Regions from separate parts of the Homo sapiens genome. Here region 2 is linked to region 1. A link means that fine-mapping ties the variant in region 1 to the expression of a gene that starts in the linked region. Tissue or cell type: whole blood. Region 1 holds a variant in brackets; the other region holds the start of a gene. All regions are shown on one strand. Distances are from middle to middle.

Region 1 (2,613 bases):
AGAGAGCCAGGCAAATGACTTGCCCAGGGAGGCAGGCCACGTGGAGTGCAAGGGCTCCTGATTTCTTGTCTGTCCAGTGCACTGCACTGTGCTGGCTACTCCCAGCTGCTCCTAGGAAGATTACTCTGGCTTCTTGGCAGTAGGTCCACATCTACTTCTACCTCAACTTGTCAAGTCACACTCTTTTAACTCTCTTGGAGAAGGGTTTGTCCATGATCCCTGCCCTTGATGAGTTTTCTAACTAGGAGAAAAGCCATATAGACAGATACTGTGGTTAGGATTCAATTGCAGTAAAAATTCAGAGAAGGGAGCTAGGCATGGTGGTGTACACCTGTAGTTCCAGCTACCTGGGAGGCTGAGGTAGGAGGGTCGATTGACCCTGGGAGTTCTGGGCCACAGTGAGCTATGATTACACCTATGAATAGCCACTGCACTCCAGCCTGGGCAACATAGTGAGATCCTGTCTCTAAAAAAAAAAAAGAAATTAAAAACAACAATAACAATAAAATTCAGAGAAGGGGAAAAGATCTCTGTGGGCTGGAATAGGTTAGAGAGGCTTCCTAGAGAAGTTCTGCAGAGCCGTATTTCTAGGAAGTCTCAAAGCTTTATCTCTGATATTAGTCATCTCAATGGATTGGGGTATTTTACATCTTTAATCAAAAACTAATTTCTAAAGTAAATACTTAGATATGTTTCAGGGGCTCCACCTCTAGGGTTCACTGGGTCCCTGCCTTCCCATAGCTTCTAACACACATACACTTAGCTGAGGGCAGTGATCATCCTGGCCATATGCTTTCCCAGGTCCTGACACTTTTCCTTCTGTCCTGTTACGGGATGGGGGAGGAAGAGATCACTCACCCACCTCAGTAGCCTCTTACAGGGCAGGCAGCTGGGACCCAAGAGGCGGTCTCCTTGGCAAGTGAGCCCTCTTTGGCAGTGCTGGTCAACCCTGGGACAGACCTCCACCACCCAGGCCATTTGCAATATGGGGCCAAGACATTTGTTTGGGGGTGTATTCCTTGTGTTTGATCAGGCCTGCTCACAGATCTGGAGGCAGAGGAATGCAGGCTCCAAAACCAGGCTGCCTGCGCCTGCATCTCCAGTCCACCATTTCTAACTGCAGTGGTGAGTGCTGGGCAAAATCACTCG[T/C]CCACCCTACTGTGAGATGGGGAGTGTAATCCTAGCTGCCTCAAGAGGTCGTGGTCACAAGGACTGCAAGAGAGAAGGAAGGGGACACCCTCAGCACAGTGTTAGACACCCAGCACCCCAGTCATATCAGTCACTGGGGGTGGGCAAGATGCTGGGGCCACTTTATCCTTGCATCCTAGCTGGATCCAGAGTTGAGATGGGGAGCGGGGAAGAGCGAGGGCGTGGGAATGCAGGAAGAGTGCTGTTTCTGCCATCAGATCAGCTAATGGGAGGGTGGGAGGCAAGGCCACAGAAGTGCTAGCTACTGCTGTTTTGGTGTTTCTTTGCACACAGACAGCTTCCTTTTTCCTGCTGATGCTGCTAAAGTGTCTCAGACAAGAGGCCACCCTTACCCTTCTACTAGAAATCAAGAACCCCCGAGGCTGTTCAGTTTGCACCCTAGGAGAGGAGCCAGGCCACAGGTTGAAGAAGTTCCCAGGCAGCCAGACCCCATGGCTTTCTTTGCATTCCCCAAATCTGCCAAGGGTTTGACCTCTTGCACAAAGACCCTCCAAAGTAGTGTAGCCTTTTTGGCGTCCCCTCGGACCAGAAAGGTCCAAACTCTCCTAGGAGATAAGAACGCCACCTGCCTGTAGCCCTGCTCCAGAATGACATGTTGCACAGTCCTCTCCACAGCCTTCCCCTCACCTAGACACTGCAAGGACCAAGCCAAGGAGAAATTTAGAAACTGGCTGATGACAAAAATGACAAGACCCCCCTCCTCTATTCCTGTAGTCAAAGATTCAATAAAGCTTATCTAAGTTTGGCCTCTGCCTTCTCAGCAGAACTGCAAGGAAATTATCTCCAACTTAACAGTAGCCAATCTTGTCCTCTAAAGACAGGAATTTTCAATGTCCTTGAAATATGGGTTCAAATATTTGTCTACCTTCATAAGCAGAAAAATCTTAAATCCTTCTTATTCCCAAGCGTAGTCTTCCTTATTTCCTTTAGGGGAAATGGAAACCAGCTCCACACCTGTCCCGCTGCAGTGTCCCTTTCCTCCTAGCTGTGAAGGCCATGTGGAGCTGCCATCCCTCTGCCCGGCAGGGTGCACACGTACATGCATTAGCTATAACAAACTTCCTCTCTCCCTTTCCTTATACCTGACACTCCCAGCTGCTTTGAGTCTGTGTACAGAGGTTCTGTTTTCCGGTTTGTTGAATACTTTTTTTTTTTAATCCACTTCTATAGGCCCCTCAAATCCTCTCTTCTTTTTTTGAATTTTATGGCAGGCCATACCAGATAAGCATCCAATCCTCTCATACGGTATTCAGTAAAACAAGAACCAAGCTGTCAGGAAGGCTTGGTAGATGCTTTTTTTTTTTTTTTTTTTAGATGGAGTCTCACTCTGTCACCCAGGCTGGAGTGTAGTGGCGCCATCTTGGCTCACTGCAACCTCCGCCTCCCGGGTTCAAGCGATTCTCC
Region 2 (2,621 bases), 20 kb before region 1:
AATGCAAAAATATTAGAAGTTGCAGGATCAGGGTTTGAGTCATTTTTTTTCATGTTTCAGCCAGTCCTAAATAAGAGCTGTGAACAACAAGGCTACCTGGTGATTTTGTTTTTTATCTTTTTGTATGTGCATGTGGTTTTTCTGGCTTTTTGTTTTGTTTTGTTTTTGAGACAGGGTCTTGCTCTACCTCCCAGGCTGGAGTGCAGTGGCGTCATCATAGCTCACTGCAGCCTTGACCTCCTGAGCTCAAGCAATCCTCCAGCCTCAGCCTCCTGAGTAGCTAAGACTACAGGCCTGCACCACTGCACCCGGCTAATTTTAAAATTTTTAGTAGACGGGGTCTCGCTCTGTTGCACAGGCTGGTCTCAGACTCCTGGGCTCACGTGATCCTCCCCTGTCAGCCTCCCAAAGCGCTGGGATTACAGGCGTGAGCCACCGCGCCTGGCGATTTTGTTTCCTCTGTACTCTTCGTAGCTCACAATTACGCTAAAAGAACCTTTTTCCCATTGTTAATTCCTTCCATTTCCCTCCCCCACCCGTCGATTCCCCCTATTTTTAGGAAACTCGAAGATGATGTCCTTTCAACGTTCTCTCCTGTATTCTCAAATACAGGATCCAGTCCTAAATATTTTTTAATACATTGGCTAGTTTATTTCTGATGGCATTAAAAGTATCGGCACAACTGTTCCCTGATTTATAAAGCTCACAGATGCTGTATGACCTGTAACATTATACTAGCTAATGAGCTCTCCCGGAACAGTTGACGTGGAAGGAGTTTACTTCCACTTGGTTGCAAGGAGAAAGATGGAGAAAGCGAGAGACGATTGCAAAAAGAAATAACTTAGTCCATTTTCTCAGTGCTGTTTGGGGGCTTTGTGCTAATACTTAAATTGCAGAGGAGGGAGGAGACGGGACTGAGGATGGAGGGGAGCAGAGGAGGCAGGGGCGGAGCCTCGGCGGGCGAATAAAACCCCTCGCTAAAGAGAAGCACGTTAGTGTGTGGAGAAGCCACTCTCCCGAAACCAGAGGGATGGGGCCGGCTGTGCAGTAGAACGGGGATCGAAAAGAGGAAAACAAGGGCACGAAGACCAGCGAGAAAGAAGAGGACACCTGGGAAAGGCGGAAGCAGAAGACGGGGAAGGGAAAAGAAACCCAAAGCAGGTGGAAACCAGATCTAGAGCAACACCGTCAGGTTCACAGTTTGTTTTTCTAGAAGAGAAGAAAGTACCTGAGGATTGCTCTTTTTTCCTACCGTTAATGAAAACTACTTTTGTCTTCATCATAAAAGAAAAAACTAAGGGGAGGTAAAGGCAGTCTCCTGTTTTATTAGGGGGAGAGGTGAAGGGAAATCCAGGCTCACTTTCTGAATAAGCCACTGCCTGGTGCACAGAGCAGAACCATCCTGGTTTCTGAAGACACATCCCTTTCAGCAGAATTCCAGCCGGAGTCGCTGGCACAGTTCTATTTTTATATTTAAATGTATGTCTCCCCTGGCCTTTTTTTTTTTTTTTTTTTTTAGCAACACTTTTCTTGTTTGTAAACGCGAGTGACCAGAAAGTGTGAATGCGGAGTAGGAATATTTTTCGTGTTCTCTTTTATCTGCTTGCCTTTTTTAGAGAGTAGCAGTGGTTCCTATTTCGGAAAAGGACGTTCTAATTCAAAGCTCTCTCCCAATATATTTACACGAATACGCATTTAGAAAGGGAGGCAGCTTTTGAGGTTGCAATCCTACTGAGAAGGATGGAAGAAGGAGCCAGGCACCGAAACAACACCGAAAAGAAACACCCAGGTGGGGGCGAGTCGGACGCCAGCCCCGAGGCTGGTTCCGGAGGGGGCGGAGTAGCCCTGAAGAAAGAGATCGGATTGGTCAGTGCCTGTGGTATCATCGTAGGTGAGTTCCATTCCTTCCCGCGGACCCCTCCTCTCCCCTCTGGTGGTCCTCCTGTGAGATCTTAACCCTTCGAAAGCATTATTGTTCTTCCTATTCCTTAGAAAAGGATTGTCAGTCACCTGAGCTGTAACTCACCTCCACTGGTCAAGTTTGAGAGGCATAGGAAATACATCATACATCTCTTCCTCCAAACCAGGCAAAGATTCTGCCCAGTGTTCATAGAATGGAGCAAATCGTGGTCAGAAACCCGGCTGATGATTAGCATTGCCTGGGAACTCCTTAAAAATACAGGTCCTGGTCTCGACACTTGGAGGTTCTAGTTCAATAGGTTTAAGGAGGGACTGAGGGACCTGAACAAGTTTGTATGCAGCTATTATTCCCAGGCTGGGGATGGGCTTTTAAGGTATATTTGGTAGCTATTTTGCAGTTTTATGTTAAATGAAACTATGGGATAGGTATTAAAAATAGCAAGAGCAATGCCCTGCCTTTTTATTTTAGCGTTTTCCACCTTATGCAGCACTTTTACTGTGTGAAGTAGCTGTGACAGGGCTGTTATTCCCATTTCACAGATGGGGAAGTTATGGAAGAAAAGAGGGGACAGATTGTGCCTCTCGGTAAGTGGAGAGTTTGCAGTTTCTCCAGTTGCCTGGTGGGGTCCACCTGTTTCTTAACAGCCACGGAGGACCCGGTGAAGCTCTCAGAGGGAATCAGGAGTAACTAGAATGTGTAG

The links. PIP is the estimated chance that this variant, and not a neighbour inherited with it, causes the effect.
Region 2: SLC7A8 starts here. The variant in region 1 is fine-mapped to the expression of SLC7A8 in whole blood (TOPMed, PIP 0.97).

What each region holds. Positions count from the first base shown.
Region 1 is chr14:23,161,834-23,164,446 of GRCh38, reverse strand. The region is part of intron 3 of SLC7A8 (solute carrier family 7 member 8); the gene reads left to right. Among named protein-coding and RNA genes, the nearest start is that of SLC7A8, 21 kb to the left of the region's middle. The variant T/C (reference allele first, on the strand shown) is at 1,150.
Region 2 is chr14:23,182,034-23,184,654 of GRCh38, reverse strand. SLC7A8 (solute carrier family 7 member 8) reads left to right here and starts at 995. Exons shown (of 11, transcript NM_012244.4): 1 at 995-1,891. The coding sequence starts at 1,741.